7 linked regions of the Homo sapiens genome follow. The protein of the gene in region 6 purifies or fractionates together with the protein of the main gene of each other region. This does not show direct contact. Each region holds a gene or a part of one and is shown on either strand. Other genes may lie near its edges.

Region 1 (4,504 bases), on a different chromosome or scaffold from region 6:
GACTTGGCCACACCGCAAAGCCAGCCATGGGAGCCACTCAAACATTTTGCCACTGACTTGCTTTTCAACATCAATGGAACTGTTTTCAAGTAAATCTGAGGTAAATTCATTTGCCCTTAAAGCCCTCTACGGTGATATAATATAAACAGTTATTTTTATTACCTATAAAGTGCCTTGAACAACTCAGATAACTGTCACAAATCACGATGTTAAACAACAAAGTATGAGAATATTTCTTTCGTGTAAAATGCAGAATTGAATGAGATGAACATTTATTTAACTGTTAAACGGTGATAATACCCATTAACTAAGAAAATTATCAATCCCATACACAGACAGCCAACACCCAATACTCCTAATACTGTGTCTTTCTAGTTTGGACAAGTGTCTTTCTATTCTGGAAATGTTCTACGATGCTGTTAGAGCAAGTAATATTTTGGGTTAAAAATGCCTTCCCATGGAAGGTGGACTCCTGATAATGCAGTGGGTGAGAAAAGACTCTAAGGACTATGGCTGTAAAACAGAAATACACCCAAGTCCATGATGGCTTGTCCACTTGCCTGTTGCTTTTTCAGCAGGATATTGACACTGGTCAGGTCTTTGCCATAGTCATCAGACTGAATCTGACTCTCCAGGCCGTGCAGCCATTTGTCTAGATCTGCACAGCTCTGGGTGAAAAGTTCGGCCTTGTTTGCATCAAAGAGCCGCTGGGCCTTTGTCTGGGTAGTGGATTCAAGGACTTCCCACATTTTATGTAAACCAGTGAGTTTCTCCTTCACCACAGCTTCCGTCTCAGGCTTTTCTGAAATGAGCTGCATTCCTTCCTGGAAAACAAAACCAACATGGTTGTAAATAAACAAGTTTGCTACAGAAAAAATGTCACTGTGAAAAACAAACCTAGGACATTTGATCTGTGATTTAACCATTCACTCAATACACACAGTCTTTCCACATGAAGTTACTGCTCAATAAAATCAACAACGACCCCTAGGTTGTGTACATTACAAGGGTTTCATGGGAATTAAGCAATAAATGTTACATGCTGAAATAGTCTCAACTGGGGCAACGGAATACTGAATGCTAATAACGTGACTTTATCTCCTCCATTCCATGACCAAAGATGATATACAACACATTATTATTATTATTATTATTATTATTATTGTTATTATATTGAGACAGAGTCTCGTTCTATCACCCAGGCTGAAGTACAGTGGCGTGATCTCAGCTCACTGCAACCTCTGCCTCCTGGGCTCGTGCCTCAGCCTCCCCAATAGCTGCGATTACAGGCACATACCACCAGGCCTGGCTATTTTTGTATGCTTCATAGAGATGGGGTTTCACCATGTTGGCCAAGCTGGTCTGAAACTCCTGGCCTCCAGTGATCCATCTGCCTTGGCCTCCCAAAGTGCTGGGATTACAGGCATGAGCCACCGTGCCCTGCCAACACATTATTTTAACCGTGAAGAATCTGAAACACTATAAAAAGTCTAAAAGGAGAGAAGTCGGGGGGAAGGGGGGGACTCCATATTCATCTTCAGTTATGCTGCCCAGAATCTCTCTGTGCAAGAATAACACATCATAGTAATTATTATAGCGCCTGGTATACAGTAGTCTCATAGGAAAAAGCAATTTTAAAAAATATGTATATATTTAAAATTATGTGCAATCTGTCACAGTACAACACAAATAATATGATCAAGACAGTGGAATCCCTGCATGAGAGCTCACAGTCCATCAGCAACAGCAGATGAGAGGCACAACAGAAACTAAATGCCTAGTATTCGTTCTACGATAAATCAAGCATTTTCTACTAACTGGTTGGGTTTCTGCTTTTTTCCCTTTTGATGGGTTGAAGTCAGGAACCCGTACGTGCAAAGGGAGCTATTACTGGCTGTGTAACTTACGTAAATGTACAGATAAGATCAGATATGCTGGAAAATGTGCTAAATAAAAAGGAGTTTATTACTACCCTGTTTGTTTTCTCACCATGGCCACATCAAATGTTTTAACTCACCTTCTCGATTTTGTCAAGCCATTCTTTGTTGGATGCAAGTTCTGCCATAAATGCTTGATGCTTCAACCATTTACTGTGCAGATTTCTGGCTTCATCGTAAGACATGTCCTGGGCTGTGAGCATCTTCTCATTGATCCAGAGAGACAGCTACAGAAAGATCAGAAGGATTCAGAGATTGTGATCCTAGACATCAGCCTTTTTTCCGCCTGGAAAGGGTTGTGTTTATGTCATATTATGCATACTACACACGTTTCCATGGTGACAGACAACCAAATATTTAACTTCACAACTCTGACCCGTCATGACAGGTGTCCATTAGATGGAGCTTGTACCTGAGCTCTGCTCCAAACTATATCTAACATTCATTCCAGAAGTACAAAAGCTCTATAAGCCAGTTTTCAAACTGTTTGGCACTCATAACTGGCTTTCCCCACAAAAGGCCCGTGTTTAAAATTCTACCCTAACCACTCCAAGACATGACTCTTTTTCTCTTCCAAATACCTGTGTCAGCTATACCATGTTAATCATGATTGACTTTTACTCCATTTGGCAATCCTTCTTACTCTCTTAGTTCTTTTTATTAAAAAAAAAAAAAAAAAACTACTTATTTATTACCTCCCCCTTTTTGTGGGTGCATCGAAGGGAATGCAAAAAGGCATAAATAACTTGCTCACTGTAGGGCTAAGGCAACAATCATGCCCTTTCAATGTTTCCTTCAAGTTTGAGTCACCTTCACCTCTTTTTCTATAGCCTCTAGTTCTCTAAAGAACCTTTCATTCACACCAAGAACACTTCACAGGACTTGATTTTGAGACCCAACATGTCTGCTTGGATCTGAACTCTAGAGAGCCGCACAAAGGCTGCTGGCCGCTGACAGACCTGAGAAAGGAGCTCTCTTACCGGGGTCAGCCAAACGCCAGGCCCAGACCCACTTTTGCTGGCTTCCATCCCGAATCGGCCCTGGCTCATTACTGCCTGCCTGTAAGGGCCATGCCAGAGTCCTGATTCCCGCCCCATTTGCTTTGCTAACCTAGGAAGAGCTTTTTGTTTGCCCAGGCTGAAGATACACAAAAGAATGCAGAGCCAGCCTGGAATCAGAAGTAACCAACTGAAGGGACCATGTCCCTTCTCCTGAGTGACCGTGAGAAGCCCACTTTTACACCAGTTATTGTCACAACAAATTGGCACCTTAAATCCTTCATGGTTCTACCAACAAAGATCTAGAAGTGACACATAAAACCAGTAGAAGTACTTACAGAATTAACACTTCCAAGGCCCTTCCACTCCCACTGTGGGCTGCTGCCAGGAAAGGCTCCCCGAGATTTGTTTTTTGGAAATGATGTCAAGGAGAGCGACGTGGGTCACAGGAGCCCTCTGGCTCTGAAAGTGGGTGAACTCTTGGGCACTGTCCCTATTCTCAGGCTATTCACCACACAGGGAATGGGGCAGGGGGCGGGGGTGGGAGGGGGTTAAAAGCAAAAGGTAGTGAGATTTTTGATTTCACTCTTTGTTGAGGGAAAAACTAGCAAATCTCATAAAGTCCTTTGTCATCAAAGACCATGGATCTATTAGACAATAAAGGCACGCACTTCCTACTTGGAAAAAATTATCTATGTTCCAGTTATCTGGGCAGCTAAAATCTGAAAGACTATGGCTATTCAATCTTAGGGGAAAAGAAGTTAAAGTAAAACTTAATGACAAAATTTTTCCCAGTATTCTGTACATACACACAAAACAGAAGGCATTTATTGATTCAAAGTGCCAAGGACATTCACATATTTTCGCTATTCATAACCACTTACCCAAGAGGGATTAAAAAGAGAGAGAGAGAGAGCGCGCTACATAAAAATCAGAGGCTTATAAACAAATCTGCTCTTTGCTGAACACATCATCCTACAGATAAAGCATCATGCGATACAGCACAATGAAATGGATCTATGGAACTTGCTAGTTCATCAGCACTCTGCAACCAAAGCTACAGTTATTATTTGTGGGCATTTACAAAGGTCATTTAAGAATTTACTCATTCTCTGCAGAAAAGAACACTGTGCAGACTGGAAAAAGATAAGGAAAAAATGCTTTGATCGTTGAATCAAGCTAACAGTAAAGGACTAACTCACATCCCTGTACCAGACACATGTAGATATACTGCCTTCCTGGAAAAATAAAAATCAGTTCCAGAGAATAGGTGGTGTAATGTGAGGACATACAACACAAAAGGAATACCTTTAAAATCATTCATTCGTTTTTCAGGATATCACATTAAAATAACACTACCGGCCAGGCGTGGTGGCCCACACCTGTAATCCCAGCACTTTGGGAGGCCAAGGCGGGTGGGTCACTTGAGGCCAGGAGTTCAAGACCAGCCTGTCCAACAGGGTGAAACCTCGTCTCTACTAAAAATACAAAAACTAGCTGGGTGTGGTGGCGCATGCCTGGAATCCCAGCTACTTGGAAGGCTGAGGTAGGAGACTTGCTTGAACCCGG
Region 2 (4,155 bases), on a different chromosome or scaffold from region 6:
CATTGATTATTATTTTGGTGTTGTATCTAAGAACCCATTGCCAAATTTAAGGTCTTGAAGATTTACCCCAATATTTTCTTCTAAGACTTTTCCTGGGCTCAACTAATCCTTTTGCCTCAGCCTTCCGAGTACCTAGGGCTACAGGCGTACATCATCGCACGCAGCTGATTTATTTATTTATTGTAGAGATAAGGTCTTGCTATGTTGCCCAGGGTGTTCTCAAACTTCTGGCCTCAAGGGATCCTCCTGCCTCGGCCTCCCAAAGTGTTGGGATTGTAGGTGTAAGCCATTGTCCTTGGCCTATTTTCAGTTAATTTTTGTGTATGAGGTAGGGGTCTAACTTTTTTCTTTTTTATGTGAATACCCAGTTTTCCCAGCACGAACTGTTTAAGAAAAAACACATTTGTTTAAGACTATTCTCTCCCCACTGAACAGTCTTAGCACTTTTGTCAAAAACCAATTGACCTTAGATGGATGGGTTTATTTCTTGACTCTTGATTTTATTCCATCACTCTATGTCTATTCTTATACTAATGCCACAGTTTTGATTTGCATTCCCTGATAACTAATAATGTTCAGCTTTTTTTTTTTTCATATGTTAGCTGGTCATTTGTATATCTTCTTTGGAAAAATGTCTATTCCAATCCTTTGCCCATTTTTAAGTTGGGCTGTTAGTCTTTTTGCTAAGACTCTCACATCCAGAATATATAAAGAACACTTACACTCCACAACAAAAAGACTAACAACCCAGAATGAGATGCCACTTCACTCCTACTAGGATGACTATAATCAAAACAAAACAAATGTTGGTGAAGATGTAGAGAAATTGAAACCCTATGCTTGCTGGTGGCAATATAAAATGGTTCAGCTGCTGTGGAAAAGTTTGGTGGATTCTCAAACATTTAAACATAGAATTACCATATGACCCAGCAATTCCACTGTGAGGTATATACCCAAAAGAACTGAAAACATATTTAATGTTCACAGCAGCACTATCCACAATAATGAAATGGTGGAAACAACCCAAATGTCCATTAACTGATGAACAGATAGACAAATCGTGGTATATCCATACAACAGCTTATTCTGCCATAAAAAAAGAATGAAGTACCGATACATGCTACAAGTTGAATAAACCTTGAAAACATTATGCCAAGGGAAACAGAGACATAGGTCACATGTTTTATCATTCCATTTATATAAAATGTCCAGAATAAACAGGCAAATCCAAACAGACAGAAAGTAGATTAGTGGTTGCCAGAGGCTGGTGGAAGGGGAGTGGAAAGTGACCACTTACTTAATGGGTACAGGTTTCCTTTTGGGGTGATGAAAATGTTTTGGAAATATATGAGGTTATGGTTGTACAACACTGTGAATGTACTAAATGTGACTACGCTGTACATCTTAAATTGGTTAATTTTTTTTTTTTTTAAGAGACAGGGTCTCACTCTGTCACCTAGGCTCTGGAGTGCAGCAGCACAATCACAGTTCACTTTAACCTTGAACTCTTGGCCTCCAGTGATCCTTTCACTTCTACCTCCCAAAGTACTAGGATTATAGCCATGAGCCACTGTGCCTGGCTAGTTAAAGTGGTTAATTTTATGTTATGTGAATTTTACATCAGTAATAAAAAAGAAGCCGGAAGAAAACCAGACATCAAAGATGTTAGAAAAAGGGATATATTTACAAACCAAAAAGTCTCCAAATTCCCACTGGAAGGAGGTAGCAAGTATGAGCAGGTCTCTTTAGAAGCCCGTCCTCATTCCTATAGAAACCCCAAGTACTAGCCCATGGGGTCAGCCCTTGCCCTATAGCCCATCCTTGTCACAACCCAAGAAGCAATCCCTCCATTGGCCACACCCTCAGTCCTTTTGCCAGTCATCCTGTGCCCAGGCAGGCATTGGTGAAAAGTACTCAAAGCCTGGCCCTTTATAGCGTAGGGCATGTAGGAACATCACAAGGTCTTGGGGCAAGGGATCCTGTCGCACCAGCCGGCACTCTGCACAGAGTGGGTCTGTCTCTTGATTCATGACATCTGTTTCAACTGCCTTCTCTGATGCCAAGGCTATTGTGTCCAACTCCTGAGGGGCTGCCTCAGCTACTTCCTCCATCTTCTGGGCAGCTGCAGCCAACTCTTCCAGGTCGTCCTTGCCCAACTCTGAGGAGGGGGCCGTAGAGTCTGTGAGTCCTGGGGACAGGTCACCCTCACAGAGATCTAGCACATCCAGGCTCTGTTTGGCCTGGTGCTCTGCTACCAGGTCCCGTAGCAACTCCTCGTTTGTCTTGGGAATGTAGCCGCCCCGGCCTCGAGAAGGACCCCAGGCAACTGAGTTGTAGATGGGGTCGTTGAGAATGGGATGGCCCAAGAACTGAAGGTGGACTCGAATCTGGTGTGTGCGGCCTGTGAGTGGCCGGCACCGTACCACACTGGACTGGCCATTGTAGCTTAGCCTCTGGAACACTGTCTCACAGGGCTTGCCCCGGGGATCTACACGGCACACCCCTACTTTGTAAGACACCACTAAGATGGGTTCTTTACAGGTCACTTCCTCAGTGGGGAACTCCCCTTCCACCCGGCACACGTACTCCTTCTCCAGCTACATAGGAGGGAAGAGGGAGAAAGTCAGTACAAAGCCTAAATTCATGGAGTCCAAACTCTTTGTGGAGTGATAAGGACCAGTGTCAGAAAATTCAAACTCCAGCTCTACCATTCGCCAGTTTTGCGATCTTGGGTACATTACTTAACCTCTAAATCCTACTAACTCATCTAGAAAATGTGAAATTAGAAAAGCATTTACCAGCTGGGTGAGGTGGCTCACGCCTGTAATCCCAGCACTTTGGGAAGCTGAGGTGGGTGGATCACCTGAGGTCGAAAGTTCGAGACCAGCCTGACCAACATGAAGAAACCCCGTCTCTACTAAAAAATACAAAATTAGCCAGGCGTGGTGGCGCATGCCAGTCATCCCAGCTACCTGGGAGGCTGAGGCAGGATAATTGCTTGAACCCAGGAGGCGGAGGTTGCAGTGAGCCAGGATCACACCATTGCACTCCAGACTGGGCAACAAGAGCGAAACTCCATCTCAAAAAAAAAAAAAAAAAAAAAGAAAAGAAAAGAAAAGCATTTACCTCATTGGGCTGTGATAAGCATTCAGTAAGTTAGGCTCTAATGTGCTTGATACTAAGCCTGGTATATAGCATGCACTCAATAAATGTATTATGATTCAGATCCAGAATTACAAGTCTCAGGACAACAATCATTACCATTAAACTCCTCTACCCAAGACTTTTCCAACTACATCTAGAATCTTTTCACCAAGCAGGCTCTCCCCATAATCTTAAAAGCCTTGCTCAGCCTGTCAGCACTTTATTTTCTTATGTTAATTTATTTCTTTGAGACGGAGTCTTGTTCTATAGCTCAGGCTGGAACGCAGTGACATGCTCATGGCTCACTGCAGCCTCAACCTCCCATGGCCAAGTGATCCTCCTATCTCAGCCTCCCAAGTAGCTGGGACTACAGGCATGTGCCACCATGCCAGGGTAAGTTTTTTTTTTTTTTTTTGAGACAGAGTCTCACTCTGTCACCCAGGCTGGAGTGCGGTGGCGCGATTCGGCTCACTGCAAGCTCCACCTCTTGGGTTCACACCATTCTCCTGCCTCAGCCTCCCGAGTAGCTGGGACTATAGGTGCCCGCCACCACGCCCAGCTAATTTTTTGTATTTTTTTTTAGTAGAGACGGGGTTTCACCGTGTTAGCCAGGATGACCTCGATCTCCTGACCTCGTGATCTGCCCGCCTCGGCCTCCCAAAGTGTTGGGATTACAGGCGTGAGCCACTGCGCCTGGCCTTTTTTTTTTTTTTTTGTAGAGATAGGGTCTCCCTATTTTGCCCAGGCTGGTCTCTACCTCCTGGGCTCAAGCTATCCTCCCACCTCAGCCTCCCAAAATGCTGGGATTACAGGTGTGAGCCTGGCCTTGTCAGCATTTTAAAGCTTCAAAATAGCAAACTACTAAGAGAGGCAGTGTATGCCATCTCTAAAGATTTTTTTGGAAACATATGAGATATCCTGCATTTGGCACTTTAGGTGTTGACCTGCCTTAAGGTAGGAAGGTAGGAAGGATGGCCAGATAAATATGAAGGACCACTTCGGAACTCCATG
Region 3 (4,504 bases), on a different chromosome or scaffold from region 6:
TGCACACGTGCACATACACACACACACACACTCACACACACCAGCGATGACCCAACCCCAGATACTCCCAGGGATAGCAGGGAAGGCAGGGGAGGAAAAGCACACCCCTGGGCAGCACCATAGCAACAGACCAGCCAATCAGCAGGCACTGCCGCACAGCGGCACTTGCCAAACCTTGCCTGGCGGAGAGCTGAGGGCGGGGCGAGGACAGGAGCTGCGAGGGGAAGGGGCACGAGGGGCGGGGCCGTCCCAGAGGCTCTGCCCCAGGCTGACCCCAAGCTTGCTGTCCCCAACCAGAGTCCTCACAGGACGCAGGCCAGGAAGGGTGCCAGCTCTCCAGCTGTCTCCTCATTCGCCCAAAATACCTGCCTCCCTTCCTCTCAGACCCCTCCAGGAGCTGCAGCCCACTCTGAAGATGCTCAGGCCGGTGCAGGTGCTGCAGACACCCCCTCACAGCCTGTCCGGTGGCAGACAGGGTGCGAAGGTTCACGGCTAGGCAACCTCCCGCCAGGTCGGGCAGTGAGAGCCCAAGCCAAGGGGGACAGGCAGGGGCTGGCCTGTGTCTTCCTGGTCTGAGTCCACAGGCCTGGAGGAGGAGACAGATGGGGGCCCCAATACCCAGAGGCCTAACACAGACGGAAGCAGCACCAGGAGGCAGTCAGAGGCCTCCCCACCAGGTCCCAGGCCCAGCATCCCCACCAGGTACCAGGCCCAGCGTCCCCACCAGGTCCCAGGCCCAGCAGCCACCGGGGCACTGCCCTTGTCCAGGACCACGGCCGGCCAGGCCCATGCTCAGCGTTCCATGCTATCCCAAGGACCCCCGCTGCATGGGACTGGGGACACCCAGCAGGCACTCCTGTCCTGGAAATCCAGGTGAGGACCTCGGAAATGACGCCTGCTTGAGAATTTCCATCAGCACATCTGCCCAACCCCCCGTCCCAGAGTCACGTCCTGCAGGCATCACCGGGACGAGCCGGCAGCTCCTGTCAGGGAACCTGGGGGCACAAAGGCAGAGCCCCTTCTTAGGACCAACAAAAAGGCCTGGACAACCACACATCAAGATGACTGAGGGTCCTTGGTGCCACCAGACCAAAAACCACAGCGAACAAGAAGCAACACAGAGGATGTCTCCAGCAACACAGCACATGCCTCCAGTAAGCGGGAGCCTCCCTGCAGGCCCATGTTCCGCCCACCCTGTCCCTCCAAGGGCCAGGGCCCAGAAACGCCTGGTAGTGGGTCATGCGGGACCACCTGGCTCAGTCTCTGCCAGGGGAGCGCCGCCCTAAATACAAGAGCAGCTTCAGGGTCCTCAGTCCTGGCACACTGAGCACTCAGCAAACGTGAGTGCAGAAAGCAGCCCACAGGACCGCCGATGCCTTCTGAGTGCTCCGGGGCCACCTCACCTGAGGCTTGAGCCCCAACTGAGGCAGGAAACAGAGGGAACCCTGATCCCACAGAAGCACAGACCGCGCCGACTGCACAGATGCCACCCTCAGGTCACAGAAACTGTAAGGGCAGCCAACGGGGGTGCACCCTGCCACTGTCTCTAGGACCCCGTGATGAGCCCCAGAAGCCCTTGACATACCCGAGGGGCAGCCACGTGGGTGGAGAAGCACCCCCGGCCCTCACAGGCTGTGGCCACGTGCAGTCACAGGGCAAGCTGCCCCGGCCGGCTCCTGTCACTCACATCCCGTCTCCAGAAGAGGCCCCAAGGCATCCCGTGTTGGACCCACAGGACTCAGCCTGGAGTCACACTCAGGGCCATAATTTTCCGCAGCAAGGTCAGCACAGGAAAAAGACACACGGGGCAGGGTCGCGGGAGGCCAGACACGGCTTCCAGGACACCCTCCCAAGATGGTATGAGGGCCGGTCACTGGAGCACCTGCTGCTGGGCAAGCAACAAAGTCCCCGAAGAGAAAGCCGGTGTTCAGCAAAACCCCTACTGTTTGCACCAGCAGGTTAGGTGCAGGGAGACCCTCTCATCAGGAAATGGAGGGAGCCTTCCCAAAATCCAAGGCCCCAGGCACCAGCCAGAGGCAGTCTTGCCGGCTGGCTGTCTCAGACCACTGTGTGAGCTCTTCCACACAGAAGTCTAACATGGGTGGCCCCGAGTCAGAAGACAGGGCCCAGGTACATGGCCGCACTGGCCGCCCCACCGGGCAAGCACAACCAGGCTGTGACACCACTGAGCTCCACCCTGAGAGGCTGCACACACTCCAACCCGACCCTGGTCCCACCCAGCTGCTTGTACCTTCTACGTTGTTGTAGAAATGACAGGAGCGACTTGCCACCTTCTTACGGCACAAGTGGATCTGTGGGAGGAAGGGCAGAGTGCGCAGCTGAAGCACGGCCAAGAAAGGACCGAAGCCAGTCCCCACCCCCACCAGGTCCTCCCCTGCAGTCCCCCAGTGAACTTCAAACCCTAGCCCAGCGGGAGCGCAGCCTGGGGCTCTGGACACCCAGCAGCACTCGCCTGTCGGACACTGAGCCGGAGCGGGAGCCCAGGAGCCTACCTGTAGATGGTTACTCTCTTGTTTCTTCACCTCAGGATGGATGCACAGCTGCTCCCGGGAGCCCAGCACACACACCTTAGGCCTGGTGGGAGAGAGCACCGTGGGTCGAGGAGGAGCTGTCTCCAACACCCACAGCGTGGCCCTGCAGCGTGAGCTGTATGGAGACACGCAGGAGCCTCGGCGGTCAGAGGAAGTGAGCATAACTGAAACGTGGCCCGGGCGTAGGAGGGAGCTAGAAGACGAGCGGGGGTACTGGACAGAGGGAGGAGATTCGACAGCTTCCACAGCACCCTGCCACTGGTCCGGCCACAGGAACCCGACAGAACACCAAGACTCTGCTGGGCTCTGACAAGCAGCAGGGCCTCCTCCTACTTCATGTGCAAAGCTGCACTGGGGGCCAGCCCTGACCTACTGCACAGCTGCTACAACAGCACCTGCGAGGAGCTCAGGACGCCCGCCCAAGGTCAGCACACAGATGCAAAGCTGCTTCCTCACAAGTAATGGGCATTGGAGGCAGCCCAGGCCGCACCCCACCCCTGGGCACCAGCGCTCTGCACACTTCGGGGGAGCGTCTAGAAAGACCACCACCCTCCACCACAGCACAGCATGGGGCTGTGGACTCAGCACCATGCCAAGCTGGTTCTCTTGAGGACCCCGAGACAGGTGTAAACTCGTCTGACCCACCGGTAGGAGGTGTTCCGAAGCTCGTTGATGACCTGTGTGAGTTGCGAGTGGGTCCTGGAGGCGTAAATAATCTTTGGGATGTCCGTGTAGCAAGCTGACCAGACACAAGCAAGCACAGAAGTCACGGTTCTCAGACAACGTTCTCACGTATCAAAGGCAGGTGGCATTCGGCTAACTCGGCCCTGCAGACAGCCAAGAATCTGACACCCCAGATACTGGTTTATCAAAAATGGGTGAAGTGGGCATCTGCCGTGCCCTAATTCAGCAAAAAAGCCCAACCCTAGGTTTACACCCACGATGGCGAGAAATTATACAGCAGCTAAAAAATTCTCCTTGAGTTCTGCTTGAGAGACGGCAGGAGTCCCCATGGGCCCACCCCACCCTCAGCGCCATCCCTTGCCAACCATCCCCACAGGAGGCCAGGAGAGGCCTGGGAACTAGGGTCACCTATGGGGTCTCCAGCAGCAGCAGCAGCGTTGCCCCAGGATGACAAGGCCCGATCCGGGAAAAGCTCTCCTTGCGCCCTCTCGGCAATCTTGCGGGCAGAGATGCCGTCTCGGAGGTGTTCTCGCCAGGCCAGCGTGGTGCACAGCAGGCACAGCGTCTTCCCTGTACCCGTAGGGCTCTCCAGGATGCCATTCACCTTCTGAACGGAGTTCGGAGCAAGGGTTACGGGGAAGCCAGGAAGAGGCGAGGCCACACAAGCTGCCCTGAGACAAGCTTCGGCAGCCAGCGGGCAGCTCTTTGCAGATGCAGAGGCCACTGCCAGGTGGCGAGAGCCCTGTGGGACCGCGGAGAAGTCCACAGGCAAGTCCCACTCTTGCCCTAAAGGGCGTGAAGCAACTCAGCCGCCATTAGCAAACGATTTGCAGAACGTTACCCAAAACACGACACTATTTTTCAGCTTAAATAGTAAGATGACTAATTAGGTGTCAAGTCTCAAAATAGGAAACTGTTCTGCGTTTCTGGATCCAAACATTTATGCTGTCCTATCTGACGTCCTACATACAAGCTCTCAGACGGGAACCTGAGCAGGAAACTCGGGGAGGGGAAGGGTGTGAGCCGGGTACAAGAGGGCACCTCAAGGAACCCAGGAGAAGGCAACCTGCACCACTGCCACCTCCCTGCACCCCCGAGGTTCAAAGACCTTCCAAGTGAGGCTGGCCACCGGCTGCCCCTCTAATGGAAATGCTTCCTCCTGACCCGTGAATATCAGCTGCTCCTCAGAGAGGCCCCCAAGGCACTCCTAAGTCTGTCACCCTCAAGGACTGTAGGGAAAAGAGAGATCAGACTGTTACTGTGTCTAT
Region 4 (4,504 bases), on a different chromosome or scaffold from region 6:
TCTCCGGAATGACTTCTTATTCTTGCACGAATTGAATATTACCAATCTCTTTAAACCAAGTTATTCCTGTGACTGAGATAACTTCTAGAGTGTGAAGCAACAATTTGCAAAGAATAGGCAGGCACAGGTGTAATGAGGCTATTAACATTCCATAAAAATAATGCAAAGTTGCAAAAGATAATCAATTTTTTAAAATTGTAGGTTCAAGGGCAAAGCCGGAATAGTCAGGAAACAATGAAGTGGTCCTCAAAATCAATATGGATAATATATATTTGAAATAAAACACAATCTCTACATTATATAATGTGACATCCCAGAAAACAACAAAGGGTGAAATATCCAGCCAATAATCCTTTAAACTAATGAAATTACACAAAGAAAAGAAAAGAAAAAGAGAGAGAGAGAGAAAGAGAAAGAGAAAAAGAGAGAGGGAGGGAGGGAAGGAAAGAAGGAAAGAAGGGAAGGGAAGGGAAGGGAATGGGGTGGGGGGAGAGGAGGGGAGGGGAGGAAGAAATAATGAACAAAAGAAATTACATACTTGATTTCTCCTTAGCTGAATTTAGTACCCGAGGCACGTTCTCTCTGACAAATGAGTGGGCCTTCATTACAAAACGAATCTACAAAAGCAGGAGGAAAAAGATGTCTCTTCAAAGAAAGTCTCCTGCAAGTGTCCTTTCCATTAGTCAAATGCATTATAGATAGCCAGTAAAGTCAGAAAATCCTGATAAGTGTATAAACAAATTAAAATAAAACCTTTATTATATAGTTACATGACAAAACAATGAATCTGACATTTCAAAAGTGAAGTTTTTAATTATGAAAATATTTTATAATTTAAATGACTTTTACAAAAAGTATTCAGAAACAAAATCTTGATGCATCAAAAATAATTCAATGTGGCCGGGCGCGGTGGCTTACGCCTGTAATCTCAGCACTTTGGGAGGCCGAGGCAGGCGGATCGTAAGGTCAGGAGTTTGAGACCAGTCTAGCCAATATGGTGAAACCCCATCTCTACTAAAAATACAAAAATTAGCCGGGTGTGGTGGCAGGCGCCTGCAGTCCCAGCCACTTGGGAGGCTGAGGCAGAAGAATCACTTGAACCTGGGAGGCAGGGGTTGCAGTGAGCCGAGATGGTGCCACTGCACTCCAGCCTAGGTGACAGAGCGAGACTCTGTCTCAAAAAAAAAAAAAAAAGTTCAACGTAATTTATTTATCAAAATTCAGAGAACATGGAAGCTACAATGAAACTTAAGAGGTGAGATGATTCTAGTTTAACAATTTTACAGATAATGGCAAAAGAACAATATATGAAAATTTATCCAAGTTAATACAGCTAAAAATAATAGTATCAGTATGTCATCATCATTATTATTATTTTAGCCGAGGACAGCATCGCCTTGGGTAACACTTAAAACCTTACCTGCTCGAATATAATGATGAACCGGGAAGCTGGTGGCAGTGTATATGCTAACACAACATATGTTGGTCCAAAACCTAGAACTCCAATCTGGAAGATCATGAAAAGAAAGCCATGGAAGAGAGAACGGATCAGCGGATGAGAACTCTTGCTATAGCCAGTGGCCCAATGTTGAAACAGAAAATAGGGAACTGAAAATGTAGACAGGAACATGATCCACCAGGTCCAAACAACGGTAGGAAATTTGCCAAAAGCATAAGACAGGAGGCTGAACTCAAGCACCAGCCTGGGGAGAAAAGGTACAGAAAAAGAACATAGAGGTGAATTTTTAATATACACTGAGTTCACAGAATTTAAAAGTTTCAAACACCAAACTTTCAACCTTAGGAAACACCACAACGTTAATACGCTGAAGTCATGGATGTAATAGTTCTGCTAGTTAGAGATCTGCTTCTAACCATCTGCTTTACAATATATATATATATATATATATCAACAATATATGTTCTTTAGAAACAAATTTTCTAAAAGCCCTAAGATAAATACAGTCTTCAAACTTAAGATATCTAAGATAATTGGACTTTGAACTTCTGAAAGATTAGATTCTCACATTAATTTTCTAACTGTAAAATATTCTATGGAAAATATTCAAACAGCAATCGTTCTTATGTACAAAAGATGATTTTTCAGAAGAAATAGGTACAATTTAAAAATATGTTAATATACTATACCATTATCTCCAAACTTAATTTTCAAAAAAAGTACATAATTCAATCCATGATTACCACGCTGTCATTTTTTAAGCTACAATTTGAGTTTTAAAATTTTATTTTGAGATCTGGTCTCCTTTGCATCCAGGCTGGAGTGCAGTGGCACAAACACAGCTCCACTGCAGCCTCAACCTCCCTGGCTCAAGCGATCCTCCTATCTCAGCCTCCTGAGTAGCTGGAACTACAAGTGTCTGCCACCACGCCCAGCTAATTTTTAAATTTTTTGTAGAGATGTTGCCCAGGCTGGTCTCCAACTCCTAAGCTCAAGTGATCCTCCCGCCTCGGCCTCCCAAAGTGCTGAGATTACAGGCACAAGCAACCATGCCTGGCCTATAATTTGACTTTCACATTAAAAAGAAATATCAACTTTTTCAACCTTCAATTCCAATAAGCTACTTGTTTTAAGTAACCATCTTAAATAAAGACAATCAAAAAGTTAATAAGTCATATACAGTTATCCCTCCCTATACATGGGGGGTTGGTTCCAGGAAACTGTGCAGACACCAAAACTTATGCAAATTCGAGGCCCACAGTTGGCCCCGTGGAACCCACAGATATGAAAAATCTGCCATTCTTATATGTGTGTTTTGCATCCTGGAATACTCTAGATCCCAATCAGCCTTTGCTTGCAGATGTAGAACCCATGGATACAGAGTGCTAAACACATTGATTGAAAAAATTCTGTGTATAAATAGACATGCACAGTTCAAACCCGTGCTGTTCGTAGGTCAACTGTGTATAAAGTTCTCCCATTTGGGAAAATTACCTAGAAATTACTGATTATGGTCTATTCAAATAAACCATTTTAAAAATAAAAGTAATGAAACTTCTAATTTTCTCCATCAGTTAAACTTTTCAGGGCAAAGGAATATCACCCTCAAATCTGCTGCTTTAGGATTTCCTGAAGCAATTTAATCAATTTACCCTTTACCAAAATTTAGTGAAAACCTCTAACTTCTCATGCATCAACTAGCCAGCCATCTTTTTTGTTGTCTTACCTTCCTTCATCAATGTAATCTACTACAAGTGTGCTGAGGATAAAGAGAATGAGGAGGGCAATAAACATGTGATATATTGTTCTGATGTGGTCCACTTCAAGCAGTTCACTGTAAATGTAGTTCAAACAAAACAAGTTAATAATGTATATTTAAATTTAAAACACCATAAAATCTTTTCTTAAAGCAGTTAACTTAAAGCAGTTGAGAAGATGCTTAATCCACTCTCCAAAAACATCTCAAAAAAGAATGGTCTACATTCTTTAAAACCTACCAGAAATGGATGTTTTCTAAGTAAACAAAGGCCAGTCACTAAAAACAGGAAACAAACTATTTCAAATGTTAAGAATTTTTTAATCCTATTCATATTCTACTCCCTAAATTTAATATATATTAAGTACTACCTATTTCCAAAATGTTAAAATTGACATGAGTTTCTATAATGTTGATCATGATGATGATGATAACCAATTACTACCCTACACGTCTATAAAACTCAACCATTTACAAAGATTTTACCTTCTCATTGACTTTTGTATTTAAGACTGGTCTAATTTTCTTTTAGAATATAACAATAATATAGATGACTTTTCCTAAATAATCTTTTATATCTGACTAAAACAGGTTTTTAAACTTGTTTTAACTTGTTTTTGGAAAGATAATGCTAATCTTTTAAATGATTTTGAGTAATCTAATATACTACTACTCAATCTCTGGACCAAGGATCTTCACAGTCTAATAAAAACTCATCTAAGCCATAGAAAACATGTTTTGTTTCCTTGGTTAAAAATTTTTTTAATATGTAATTTTGTTTATTTTTCATGTATAAATTCTATCATTAAAATCCTAATTATAATGTTTAAAATAAATTTTCTTTTCCCTTTTATGTGAAAAGCCTGCGTTTTCCCCCAGATGTAAACTTTAAAAGATTAATTCCTTCAAACTACAGTGTAACAGAACACTTAACACTATACATTACATGCTTAGAAAACACTGAACAGCACATTACATGCTTAGAAAACCGGCCTTCTTATCTAGGGGAAGTAGTAAACATCAACTTGACTCACAGAAAGTAACTTTTGATAAGCATAAGATGTCTTTTTAAAGAAAAGTACACTTTTTTTTATTGAGACAGCCTTGCTCTGTCACCCAGGCTGGAGTTGCTGGGTGTTGCACCTGGTGCTCAGGCTGGAGTGCAGGGGCACAATCTCAGCCCATGGCAACCTCCACCCTTCCGGGCTCAAGCGATCCTCCTGTCTCAGACTCTTGAGTAGCTGGGATTACAGGCATGCACCACCAAGCCTGGCTAATTTTTTGTATTT
Region 5 (3,844 bases), on a different chromosome or scaffold from region 6:
GCCCAGGCTGGTCTCAAACTCCTGAGCTCAAGTGATCTGCCTGCTTTGGGCTCTCAACGTGCTGGGATTATAGCCATGAGCCACTGTGCCAGCCTTGGATTTTATCTTTTCAAGCAACTTATTAGTGTGGTTTGTTGTGCAAAGATAACTGATACACCATTCCACATGGGTGAGCATCTGTTTTGTTACGGGTAAACAGAAAAGACGGTGACAACATAGGGAGATCTCCACTCCACAAAAAAAATAAAAATAAAAACTTCTCGGGAGGCTGAGGTGGGAGGATCCCTTGAGCCCCGGAGGTCAAAATTGCTGTGAGCAGTGATCATGCCACTGTACTCCGGTCTAGGTGACAGAGCAAGAGCCTGTCTCAAGAACAAATAATAAATATAAATGAAAAAGTAAATTTCCAGGTTGGGCCTCTTTCATTGCTTCAAGAAGCTGCTCCAAGTGCTGCCTGCTGCCCTGCCCATGGCTGGAGGGATTTTGGTGCACTGGGAATGCAGCAGGTTCAGCAACCACTGAACCAAGGATTCTTATTCTCAGCCTTGGTGCCTCCTGTTTGGAGTAGGGGTTTCCAAGGGAAATGAGGACCTTGGCTGCCTATGTCTGTCCCCATGCCGAACAGGAGGCCCAGAGCCAAGACTGAGAACCTAATGGGTGAAAAGACAAGAGGCTTTAGTTAAGACAAGAGGAGGCTAAGATTGAGAGCTTCAAGATGTTCCACAGATCCTGGGAAGTGTTCTTCTTCTTGGTAGTGACTCTAATGGTAGTTTCTTTGTCCCAGTTGTTTCATTCCTAAGAATGTATTGAGGCAACTCTGAATTAGAGAAAATGTACTGCAGGTGTATGACTCTCTTTTCTATCGTGTGTAGAAGAGTGAGAGACACCTCAATGTTGAGAGGTCAGGTGGGTATTCAGACCAGGGGCCCGAGGAGACCCTGGGAGGGCAGTGTGCTTCTGTGACCCTCCTACTACCTCTGCCCTCTGAAGACTCCAGCCCATGGTTCTGCCCTTTCTCAGTCCCCAGGTAGGATGGGAAACAAAGTGTTAACAGCAGAGAAAGCAAGTTTTTGGGGTTCACTCAAGACCTAGGCTACAGCCAGGTCAAGTGCCTGCTTTATTCAACAGGAAGCGCTCAAGTGGGACTCACCCCCCACCTTTCACAGTGTAAAGTGAATAGGGAGCAAGGCAGGAAGCTAGAAAAATAATGCATGGATCTAGACAATTCAGAAAAACCCTTCTAAGTCAGCTTAAGGCCAAGACTGGTCAGTGTGAGAGAACAAAAGAGGTGACAGAAAAGCCTTGGGCAGCCTGAGCCATGATGGGCCTAGCGGAAGTAGTTGGGACATTCGTGAGCAACCAAATGCCAGGCTTGATTAAAGGCATCCACGACAGCCGGCTCCAGGGGCCCTTCCTCTGTTGCTGCCAAGTTCTGCTCCAGCTGCTCCAGGCTGGACATGCCCAGGATGACCGCGTCCCCGTGGGCACCCTGCAAGGGAGACGGCCAGACTTCAACCCTCTTCTGCTGCACAGCGACTCCACTCACAGCCGTCCCAGCCACCTCCCTGCTGAGATCTGGGGTCTCTGTTTATATTTATATCTTGTATGTCCAGAAAGGACTTAAGGTGCCTTGGATAGCTGTACCCACGTGACTTGAAACCCGCATCCTTTCCCCTACTGCCGCACGACGCTTCCACACAGAACTACATTCACAGCCCAGTTCTGCCCCCAGCAGCTGTGTAAAAATGGCTAAGTTGGCTGGGCACAGAGGCTCATGCCTGCAATCCCAGCACTTTGGGAGGTCAAGGTGGGAAGAACACTTGAGCCAAAGTGTTCAAGACCAGCCTGGGCAACAGAGAGAGACTCTGTCTCTACAAAAAACAACAAAACAAAATTAGCCAGGGGTGATGGTGCATGCCTTGTCCCAGCTACTAGGGAGGCTGAGGCAGAAGGATCACTTGAGCCCAGGAGGTTGAGGTTGCAGTGAGCTATGAGTGTGCTGCTGTTCTACCGCCTGGGTAACAGAGTGAGACTCTGTCTCAAAAAAATTAAAAAGCAGGCTACGTTATTAAGCTTGTTTTGACATTCGATCTTTTTTTTTTTCAAACAAAAATATTTTTCCTTGTGTTTTGTACACAAAAGGGGGTGGGAGGTAGTGCGGTGTGGTGGTGGCAGCGGAAAAATATGGAACACTTCACAAATTTGCGTGTCATCCTTGCGCAGGGGCCATACTAATCTTCTCTGTATCATTCCAATTTTAGTATATGTGCTGTCGATGCAGGCATGACATTCAATCTTTTTCTCTGTTTTCAGCATTGGAATGAGAAAACTTATGTAAAACACAGCTCCCACGTACTGAACATCTACCGGATATATGCCAGACACTATGCAACATGGAAGGCTGAAGCTGGAGATAAGTTTGTTGCTGTTATTTTCATTGTTGTTTGCTTGTTTTTTTTAGACAGGGTCTTGCTTTGTCACCCAGGCTAAGGTGCAGTGGTGTAATCTCAGCTCACTGCAGCCTTGACCTCCCAGGCTCAAGCCATCTTCCCATCCCAGCCTCCAGAGTAGCTGGGAACGTAGGAGCAAGCCATCACAACCTGGCTAATGTTTTTGATTTGTTGTAGAGATAGGGTCCCATTTTCTTGCCCAGGCTAGACTCAAATGCTTGAGATCAAGCAATCCTCCCATCTCGGCCTCCCAAAGTGCTGGATTACAGGTGTGGGTCACTGCCACTGATCAGGAAATAAGTTTTAACCAGGAAGACATGAGGCATCAAGAGAGAGAAACCAAAAGGGTGAGATGGGTGGGTCTTAGTTAAACCTGTGTTAAAATGTCTGCCACTTTAATAGCTGGGTGAACCTCGGTTTCCTCATCAATAACACTGGGATAATCATACTTCAGAAAGCCTAAGGAATAAGAAAATCCCTGTAATGAAAATCCCTCACTACAAAGCCTCCACTCAGATACCATCAAAGACCAGTGGGAAGAGTGCTTATGAGAATTGGAAGAAAGAAAAATTTCAGAGGAATTCAGAAATCAAATGCTTTGGGCTTCACCTAAAGGTGACGCTGGTCCCCCTGGAAGGGAAGAAGCTGAGCACCCAGGGTCGCTGGTTACCTGCAGCTGTGAGTGGTGGTACATCCACCGGAGGGCAGCCGAGGTCACACTGGGGGCGCTGGCGCCATATGCGGCCTGCAGGGCCTTCTCCACCAACGCAATGGCCTCGAAGTGGTGCTCCTTCCAGAAGCTGTGCAGAGGGGATGTTAGCACAGGGGTCAGTACCATGGGGGTCACACTGGGAGCCGCAACCAAATAGCCATCCAGGACCACTGCCCCACCCCACACCCTGCAGCCCTGAGGGGCGGGTGTCCTCTCTAGTCATAGGTCTCCCACTTTGCTGGGCATCAGAACCACCCAGGATGCTGGGCCCCTCAGCAGAGACCTCAATGGATCTTTACTCCTGAGGACTCAGTAGCCTAGGGACTTCCCTAGGGACACGAAGGCTGCTCAGATGGGGCAGGATTCCCTCCTGGGCTCTCTTTTTGCTTTTTGATACATGGTCTTACTCTGTTGCCTACACTGGAGTGCAGTGGCATCATTATGGCTCACTGCAGCCTCAACCTCTTAGACTCAAGTAATCCTCCTGCCTCAGCCTTCCAAGTAGCTGGGCTACAGACAGGTGTGCACCACCACACCTGACCACTTTTTTGCATTTTTTTTTTGTAGAGACCATGTTGCCCAGGCTGGTCTTGAACTCATGAGCTCAAGTAACCCTCCCACTTCGGTGTCCCAAAGTGCTGGGATTACAGGTGTGAGCCACCATGCCTGGCCCATCCTGGGC
Region 6 (4,504 bases):
CAATATTTAAATCTATAATACAAACTAGGAAATCTATTATGTAAGTGAAATAGATAACATCCACCTGCACACTTGTCAGTTGAAAAATGTGCAGTAAAACTATGCATGATTGGCTAGTTACAGTATTTCAGTAAATATCAGTATCACTAGTTGTTCATCTGCTGGCACTTGGTAGTAGGAAGTTGGGGAAAAAAAGCCAGAGAAAACCCTAAAATTCAGAACATTTTATTTTTACTGTTCTCTATGAATTAAAAAGCCAATTTTTTCAATTTTAGCAAATTTAGAAAAATTTTCCATTTTTCATTATAGCTTGATGAAAAGAAGTATTCTGTGATCCCTGTTTGAGAACCACTGTTAGTCTAACTTCCTCTCTTTGCGTAAGAAAAATCTGAGGCCTGGCTGGGCACGGTGGCTCAGGCCTGTAATCCCAGCACTTTGGGAGGCTGAGGCAGGTGGATCACGAGGTGAGGAGAACGAGACCAGCCTGGCCAACATGGTGAAACCCCGTCTCTACTAAAATACAGGTGGTGTGTGCCTGTAGTCCCAGCTGCTCAGGAGGCTGAGGCAGGGAAGTCACTTGAACCCGGGAGGCAGAGATTGCAGCGAGCCGAGATCGTGCCACTGCACTCCAGCCTCGTGACAGAGTGAGACTCTGTCTAAAAAAAAAAAAAAGAAAAAAAAGAAAAATCTGAGGCCTAAAAAGGTTTTATTATTTTCCCAAAGCTACAGAGAGTGGCAAAGACAGACACGGAGCTTGGATATTTCAATTCCTAACCCCATTCTCCTTCCACAAGATAACACTGTCTCTACCACTGTAAGGTCATTCACAAAAGCATATTTTTAAATTATTCCTACCTAAATCTTATTTTTTGAAATAGGTCAAAAAGGCACAAGGTTCAAGACCAGTGAGTTATAAAAGAGAGAACGTTCAGTAAAGAAAACTCCCTCCCATTCCTGTCTCTCAGCCACCCCATCCTCCTCCTAAATATAATCAATGCTATAAGCTTCTTGGGATAACTGGTTTCTTAAAAGGTTTCCACTTACCTTCGTTCAACAGGTACAGGCATGGACCAGACTTCTCCCTCAGAAGCTGGAAGGTCATGCTGTGCCGCTTTCAAGGGAGTGCTGTCCAGTTTAAAGCTCTCTAGTGTTTTCATGATATCTTTAACATGTTTAGCTTCCACATTTATTTCCTGCCAAACCTGATTTCAAAGAAGAAGATGGATGTTTAAATTTCTATAATATATCACTGTCAAAATTAAATGAGGGCCATTTACTAGAGATGTTACAAAACTCCATTTTGATATCAGATATCCAGTAAACCACATCAAGATATTCTATCAAAATGTTAATAACAGTTTATTAAATTTATGTTTTCAATTGCAATTTTTTTTTTTTTTTTTTTTGGAGATGGAGTCTCACTCTGTCGCCCAGGCTGGAGTGCAGTGGCGTGATCACTCTCGGCTCATTGCAAGCTCTGCTTCCTGGGTTCAGGCCATTCTCCTGCCTCAGCCTCCCGAGTAGCTGGGACTACAGGCGCCCGCCACCACGCCTGGCTAATTTTGTGTATTTTTAGTAGAGACAGGGTTTCACCATGTTAGCCAGGATGGTCTTGATCTCCTGACCTCGTGATCCACCCGCCTAGGCCTCCCAAAATGCTGGGATTACAGGCGTGAGCCACTGCGCTCGGCCCTCAATTGCAAAATTAATTCTGATAAAATGAATTAAAACATCCAGGATAGGAAACATCCACGCCTGTAATCCCAGCACTTTAGGGAGGCTGAGGTAGATGGATCACTTGAGCTCAGGAGTTTGAGACAAGCCTGGCCAACATGGTAAAAACCCCATCTCTACTAAAAATACAAAAAGTTAGCCAGGCATGGGGGCAGGCACCTACAGGCCCAGCTACCTGGGAGGCTGAGGCAGGGGAATCTCTTGAGCCCAGGAGATGGAGGTTGCAGAAAGCCAAGATCACGCCACTGCACTCCAGCCTGGGCAACATAGCAAGAATCTGTCTCAAAAAAATAAAAAATAAAAAAAAAATCCAGGCTAACTAAATCATACTACTAATTTATATTCTTATTTAAATTGCATAGCCGGGTGTGGTGGCACATGCACGTAATCCCAGCTACTCGGGAGGCTGAGGCAGGAGAATCGCTTGAACCTGGGAGGCGGAGGTTGCGGCAAGCCGGAGATCACACCATTGCACTCCAGCCTGGGCAACAAGAGTGAAACTCCGGCTCAAATAAATAAATAAATAAATAAATTGCATAACAGGCCAGGCGCGGTGGCTCACACCTGTAATCTCAACACTTTGGGAGGCCAAGGAGGGCAGATCACCTGAGGTCAGGCATTCAAGACCAGCCTGGCCAACATGTTGAAACCCCATCTCTATTAAAAATACAAAAATTAGCTGGGTGTGGTGGCGGGCACCTGGAATCTCAGCTACTTGGGAGGCCGAGCCACAACAATCGCTTGAACCCAGGAGGCGGAAGTTGCAGTGAGCCGAGATCGCACCATTGCACTCCTGCCTGGGCAACAGAGCAAGACTCCATCTCAAAAAAATAAAATAAAATAAAATAAAATAAAATAAAATAAAATAAAATAAATTGCATAACAAATTGAAAAGTTAGGCATAACTTTAAAGTTCTACAAGAATAATTAGCTGGGCATGGTGGCCCATGCCTGTAGTCCTGCCTACTTTAGAGGCTGAGGTGAGAGAATTGCTTGAGCCCAAGGGGGAAAAAAAACCATCAAAGCACAACTTGTGAAAGTTTCATTTTTGTCAAACTTTTATTTTTATGTTTTAGAGACAAGGTTTCATTCTGTTGCCCAGGCTGTACTACAGTGGCACGATCATAGCTCACCATAACCTCAAACTCCTGGGTTCAAGCCATCCTCTCACCTCAGCTTCTCAAAGTGCTGGGATTACAGGTGTGAGCCACCATGCCCAGCCCTACTTTGATAATTTTTATTCTGTTTAATTAACTTTTAAAATGCTGATTAATCCCAATTACCCTGATTTGATCATTAGATATTGTATACAGGAATCAAAATATAATGTGTATGCCCAAGATATGTACAACTATTATATATCAGTAAATAATTTCTAAAAATCAATACAACACTGATCAGAATATACTAATTTTATGGCTAATGGGTCACAACCTACAGACTAAAATAGGTCTCAATTCATATGCAACCAAGGTATTTTTTTAAAAGCAGTCTTTTTTTTTTTTTTCAAATATTTTTTAGAGACAGGGTCTCATTCTGTCATCCAGTCTGGAATGCAGTAAAATGGCCCTAGTTTTGAGAGTAAGGCTCCACCTCAAAAATAAAAGAGAAAAGGAATCTTGACGCAATTTAAAAACTAATCTTGGGCAACATAACAATAACCCATCTCTAAAAAAAATATAAGCCAGGCATGTTGGTTTGTGCCTGTGGCCCCAGCTACTCTGGAGGCTGGGTGGGAGGATTGCTTGAGCCTGAGGAGTTAAGGCTGCAGTGAGCCATGATTGCACCACCATACTCCAGCCTGGGGAACAGACCGAGACTCTGCCTCCAAAAAACCCTCAAAAACCTATATATAGTTTTGATTCAACTGTATTATAGTAATGGGTCTTAACTCAGCCTAAAAACTATATATGGTGATGGTTGTACATTATATATGTATTTAATGCCACTGAACTGTATACTTAAAAATGGCCAAGGCCAAGTGCAGTGGCTCACGTCTGTAATCTCAGTACTTTGGGAGGCTGAGGAGGGCAGATCACCTGAGGTCAGGAGTTCCAGACCAGCCTGGCCAACATGGCAAAAACCCCGTCTCTACTAAAAGTACAAAAAAATTATCTGGGTGTGGTGGCACACACCTGTAATTCCAGCTACTCGGGAGGCTGAGGCAGGAGAATCACTTGACCCCAGGAGGCAGAGGTTGCAATGAGCCGAGACTGCGCCACTGCACTACAGCCTGGGCAACAGAGTGAGACTCCGTCTCAAAACAAACAAACAAACAAAAAACAGTAAAGTGTTATGTATATTTTACCACAATAAGAAAATGGTAGGCCAGGCATGGTGGCTCATGCCTGCAATCCCAGCACTTTGGGAGGCCGAGGCAAGCAGATCACCTGAGGTCAGGAGTTTGAGACCAGCTGGCTACATGGTGAAACCCCGTCTCTACTAAAAATACAAAAATTAGCTGGGTGTGGTGGTGGGCTCCTGTAATCCCAGCTACTCGGGAGTCTGAGGCAGAAGAATCACTTGAACCCGGGAGGTGGAGGTTGCAGTGAGCTGAGACCGCGCCATTGCACTCCAGCCTGGGCAACAAGTGAGAAAATCCATCTCAAAAGAAAACAAACCAGAAAATGGTAAAAAATAAAAATAAAAATAAACTATATATATAATATTGAAATGAAATTTAAGATGATAATGTTTTGCTTTATAACTTAAATGATTTAATCTTAAGTACCTTTAAACAAAAGCTTAGACTTAAGTAAAAGTCTTTGGC
Region 7 (4,504 bases), on a different chromosome or scaffold from region 6:
AATAGTTTTTAATACTTTTATTAAAGCAATAAGCAATTTTCCTTTGTGTAAAATGAGAAGATTAGTAGGGAAAATTTTAAGTTTTTCTGAAAGTCCACATCTTTAATTTTTGGAGTCATTTTATAAATTGACATGAAAGCAGCAGATAAAAATACTTTACATTTAAAAAACACAATTTCTTTTCAATGCAACTAAGGTCATCAGTTATAAATACCTAATTCTTAAGCAGGCTGGTTAAAAATACTGTATTTGTTTACATGATGTTTTGTGACTGCCTTTATTCTCTATAGACATATTTTTCTCAGTAAGATTATTAACTTCTTGGGGAAGAAACTACTGTGTCTCTTTCTTTTGTATTATGTGTGAGTGCTTATTAAACTAATTTTTTTTACATTTGTCATTCATATTTTAAAAATGTAATATACAGTATATTATACCAACATAGTATGCATTTACAAGCAATTTAATCATAAAATATAATTTCACAAAATGATTTGTTTCTTGGTTATTACTTTAGCAAAATTGTTAGAAGTCATATACAGAAGTCAAAATATAGACTTTTTTTTAGAACATAATAACCACCAACTCTTACATAATGCCTTACAATTTTTTTCCTCAGAGCATTTATTTATTTTTCATTAATGTTCACTACAACTCTGCTAAACAGGTATTTACAACCCCAGATAATGAGATGAAAGACAAGACTACCATAAGATGAATGACTGAAAACTGGACTCAACTTGTAATTATGGAACAATTTCCACTACACCAGGGAATATTAACCTACGGTTCAAGAACCCTGCAAAATCTGCCGTTTGTATGCTCAGGGTTCTGCAGAGTACAGGACCCTTGTAAGGATGATAATCATTTGTCTGGTGTGGACTAATCCTTTTGCCCCCCAAAATTTGAATGTTTTCATTGTTATATTTTTCCAGCTCAAAAAATCGGAATGAGCCTATGTTCTTTATCACTAGCTCACATAATGGCACCAGTATTTAATTCATCACCTTCCCTGTCAAGTCTACAGCCTCACCTTCCTCCTCTATTTCTATTAATGTATCCCTACTTTTCTGGTTACCCAAGTTTGAAACCCCTGGCTCAGGTCATCGGTGCATCTGCTTTACCCCAACATTTAACAATTACAAGTCCTACAGATTCTATCTCTCTTGGAATCCATGCCTTCTCTCATTTCCAGTCATACAACTGCACTTGAATTATTTCAACAGCTTCCTCCTCTCCATTCCTGACTCCCCTCAAGGCATGTGGAACGCTAGTCTAGTGTCACCAGACACTAAATGCAGCATTGCCGCACTTAAAAATGACGAAAACAAAAACTCGACTTATTGCCTACGCCAAAAAGGAGCCCAAACTTTCGTGTTTACTGTTTAAAGCTCTTCATGAAATAAACTGTACTTACATTTCCAATCCTGTATTTTATGATAATCCAGCCAACACATATAAGTTGTTATATGTACTTGCCTTACACTTTCTTACCTCCACACTTTACTCAATCTGTTTCTTTTAACTACAGTTGTCTCCTAACTACAAATATTAATTAGCTCCTGGAGGTAAAGCATGTATCTTATTCATAACTGTCACATAGTGTGTCTTGTACATAGCAGGCTCTCAAAAATTTATTTACAGACCCCTTTTAAAACTTACCTTTGAAATCAGTTGTTTGAATTCTGTAACTGTCTGATTTAAGTAAGCACGAACAGTTATAGGAGCAGCTACAGATTCTGCCTTTAGATCAACAACATGAACTTTCACCATCACTTCTGTCACATTTGAAGACATAAACACAGAATTGGAGGTTATTTTTTAATGTATTTCACATGAGTAATGCATTCTTAATGTGTTTCTAACAGGTGACAAATCCAAACTTCCAAGTACAGATGAAAACAACACTGAATAAATATAAATCACCAGTTACTGCAAAACAAATATTAAAGGTGACACAGCACTCCTGCTTGCTTTTGAACAAACCCCTTATTAAGCCACCTTGTTCATCATCAAAGACTTATCCTCAAAATAATATTTCCTATATCCCAAGGAAAATTCCACACAAAAACTGTTCTGATTATGCCTTTGTTTTCTCACTTAAATCTTTTATATTGAAATTTAATCCCATTCTCTTCTGTTTTCAGAAGGTTATGTTTACAATTAAACTCTTAATCACTTGAAAAATAAATGATCTTCAAACATTGTACTTAATACACAGTTATTCTGTATCTGTTTTAACCTCATGTTTTATGTCAATCCTCAGTTTTTTCCCTACGTTGTTAATCTAAATTTGACAAAATATTCTGCTAAGATCTTGATTATTAATGAATAAAGACTACTTTATAAGTCTTACAATCCACACTTGCATTTAGAGTTCTCTTTCAAATAAGTGGTATTACTGCTGACTCATGTTATATCCTAATCATTCTTTTTCTTGTCTAGCAAAAAAAAAAAAAAAGCAAGGAAATGTCCTTAAGGGACTCTTTATAGATAGGGTAGAGTCTTAGAAGTCGAAGTAGACATCATAAGGTTTCCAGAAATAAAATTTTCCCACTTAAGAGCCGTAGACTCCTTGAAAGAATACTACATCTAACCTACTCTGTAAACAGAGGCCTTCATTTAAAAAGGAGATATACAGGATCCACAGAAGAACATTATTGTAAAAGGGCAGAATAAAGTTTTGTAAGTTCAACTTTTAGGGAAAAAACACAGAGAACCTAATTCTCACTAACCACTGATGCAAAGGAGTTAGGGCCAAGACAAAACAGTATGGATTTTGTAAAATTATATAAACATTCTGCTTTTCTTCTATTTGTTACAATTTACATATGGTAATTATAGAAAACTCTGGACAAAAACAGACCATGTAACTGTCTATAGGGAAACTGTCTCTGGGAAAACTAGGGGCATGATATTTTGGTTTTCCTAAGCAGTCTCAAAGAAAAAAAAATAACAAACTCAATGTGCTGAGTGAATGTGATAGATTTAATGAAGAAAGAAAAGATGAAGTCCCTGGGACCTGTAGAAATAGAGAGGATGACGAAAAATTGTAAATGCTGACAGTGATGGGATAATGAATCCACCCTTCCAAAGAAGACCTGAAAAACAGCCTCTACTTCTGAGACTTTATGGGAATATACTTTTTTGGACCAAGGTCTTCTCCATAAAGAGAAAGAAAGAGAAAGAGAGATCTTCCTAAGAGAGCAATTGATAACTTTAGGGATTGACAGCATCCAGAATGATTCAGTACCGCCCACTGGAGAAGAAAAAACCCACTGAAGACCGTAAGCTAGAAGCTTTGTTGTTTTTTGTTGTTTTTAAAATTATGTACACAACTCTTTGCAAGTAATCTAGAACTTAATTCCAAGCTGTTGCTGAGTACTTCTCAACCTGTCAAAATTATTCTACATTTTAAGACCATATACAAAATTTAAATTATGTTCATTTCTACAATAAAAAAAAAAACTTTCTCATGAAAATTCTAAGTACAGAACAACTAAAAATAGTGTAAAATTGCTCACCTCCAGGTTTATAAGATTGGAAAACCTGATCAGGCTTTCTCGTCTCCAACAGCAGATCAAACATATATGTTGACTTGACGCCACCTAGTAGAAGCCCCATTGGTGTATCTTCTTCTCCTTCATATGACCGTTCTAGATAATCATGAAACTCATCATATTTAACAAGGCGACAGCAATCCAGGGGTATTACCTCTTCTAAATCCATCATCTAAAAGAAAGTAATCCCCCAGAAAGAAAAAATATATATACATATATATTTATATATATACATATATAAATACACAGTGTTTTAGTCTGTTGGGGAATAACATTACAATAGGCCCTAACAAAATCCACACATTTATGATTTGCATCAAAGACATCAAAGTTACAGGCACAACTTAAATGTTATTTTTAAATAATTATGTTTCATTATCCCTCCAATCATATAAAGCATGTACTAAATACATTTTTTATTTTTTAAAAAGTTAACATCATAAACTTTAGGTGTAGAAACAAAATCAATGTATTGTAACTATTGTTCATAATCAACTAATCTGGAAACACAGAGGAAAACAACCAAACAGCCAACTAGAATATGCACCTTTTGTTTTCTTAATCCAATCTGGAGTAGAATTGATAATTCATGTAACTAGTAACAATCTAAGTACAGGAGGACAGCATGTCTCATAAAGCCATCACAAAGGGTTTGGCTTCTACGATATCCCCTTTCAATATTAGCCTCCAGAATACTTAAAGCTCATGGTATAGGAATTTCTATCATAACATTTCCTTATAGCTTATGTCACCAATAGATGACATACCCTGGTTGCAACAACTCTCTTGATAGGAAATAAGCCTCCTAGAGAAACACAGTAGGATTGCTTAGAAGTATTCAATGTTCATTTAAGGTTGTGATTATGAGTTTCAAGAAGGACTTGTAAGCCTCAGCGTATCCCCATTGATCTCTACTCCTCCCCAACCCCCATCCCCAACAATGA

The links.
Region 1: the proteins of KATNA1 (region 6) and SPTBN1 purify together in Homo sapiens (affinity purification with mass spectrometry; one large-scale study listed by BioGRID and IntAct). This does not show direct contact.
Region 2: the proteins of KATNA1 (region 6) and RPUSD2 fractionate together in Homo sapiens (co-fractionation; one large-scale study listed by BioGRID). This does not show direct contact.
Region 3: the proteins of KATNA1 (region 6) and RTEL1 purify together in Homo sapiens (affinity purification with mass spectrometry; one large-scale study listed by BioGRID and IntAct). This does not show direct contact.
Region 4: the proteins of KATNA1 (region 6) and SOAT1 purify together in Homo sapiens (affinity purification with mass spectrometry; one large-scale study listed by BioGRID and IntAct). This does not show direct contact.
Region 5: the proteins of KATNA1 (region 6) and AKR7A2 purify together in Homo sapiens (affinity purification with mass spectrometry; one large-scale study listed by BioGRID and IntAct). This does not show direct contact.
Region 7: the proteins of KATNA1 (region 6) and USP47 purify together in Homo sapiens (affinity purification with western blotting; one study listed by BioGRID). This does not show direct contact.

The regions. Positions count from the first base shown.
Region 1 is NC_000002.12:54,640,643-54,645,146, reverse strand, and holds part of SPTBN1 (spectrin beta chain, non-erythrocytic 1), read right to left. Parts: intron 2,165-4,504; coding exon 2,018-2,164; intron 825-2,017; coding exon 561-824; intron 1-560. UniProt on the Homo sapiens protein: Fodrin, which seems to be involved in secretion, interacts with calmodulin in a calcium-dependent manner and is thus candidate for the calcium-dependent movement of the cytoskeleton at the membrane.
Region 2 is NC_000015.10:40,571,969-40,576,123, reverse strand, and holds the end of RPUSD2 (pseudouridylate synthase RPUSD2), read right to left. Parts: intron 2,598-4,155; coding exon 1,863-2,597; 3' UTR 1,175-1,862; downstream 1-1,174. UniProt on the Homo sapiens protein: Pseudouridine synthase that catalyzes pseudouridylation of mRNAs.
Region 3 is NC_000020.11:63,660,637-63,665,140, reverse strand, and holds part of RTEL1 (regulator of telomere elongation helicase 1), read right to left. Parts: intron 3,844-4,504; coding exon 3,645-3,843; intron 3,292-3,644; coding exon 3,198-3,291; intron 2,668-3,197; coding exon of another isoform or gene 2,596-2,667; coding exon 2,514-2,595; intron 2,313-2,513; coding exon 2,252-2,312; intron 1-2,251. UniProt on the Homo sapiens protein: A probable ATP-dependent DNA helicase implicated in telomere-length regulation, DNA repair and the maintenance of genomic stability. Acts as an anti-recombinase to counteract toxic recombination and limit crossover during meiosis.
Region 4 is NC_000001.11:179,338,227-179,342,730, reverse strand, and holds part of SOAT1 (sterol O-acyltransferase 1), read right to left. Parts: intron 3,294-4,504; coding exon 3,186-3,293; intron 1,704-3,185; coding exon 1,421-1,703; intron 722-1,420; exon of another isoform or gene 618-721; coding exon 539-617; intron 1-538.
Region 5 is NC_000001.11:19,302,898-19,306,741, forward strand, and holds the end of AKR7A2 (aflatoxin B1 aldehyde reductase member 2), read right to left. Parts: intron 3,251-3,844; coding exon 3,121-3,250; intron 2,452-3,120; exon of another isoform or gene 2,314-2,451; intron 1,490-2,313; coding exon 1,328-1,489; 3' UTR 1,068-1,327; downstream 1-1,067. UniProt on the Homo sapiens protein: Catalyzes the NADPH-dependent reduction of succinic semialdehyde to gamma-hydroxybutyrate. May have an important role in producing the neuromodulator gamma-hydroxybutyrate (GHB). Has broad substrate specificity.
Region 6 is NC_000006.12:149,631,715-149,636,218, forward strand, and holds part of KATNA1 (katanin p60 ATPase-containing subunit A1), read right to left. Parts: intron 1,203-4,504; coding exon 1,045-1,202; intron 1-1,044. UniProt on the Homo sapiens protein: Catalytic subunit of a complex which severs microtubules in an ATP-dependent manner. Microtubule severing may promote rapid reorganization of cellular microtubule arrays and the release of microtubules from the centrosome following nucleation.
Region 7 is NC_000011.10:11,935,531-11,940,034, reverse strand, and holds part of USP47 (ubiquitin carboxyl-terminal hydrolase 47), read right to left. Parts: intron 3,733-4,504; coding exon 3,525-3,732; intron 1,779-3,524; coding exon 1,663-1,778; intron 1-1,662. UniProt on the Homo sapiens protein: Ubiquitin-specific protease that specifically deubiquitinates monoubiquitinated DNA polymerase beta (POLB), stabilizing POLB thereby playing a role in base-excision repair (BER). Acts as a regulator of cell growth and genome integrity.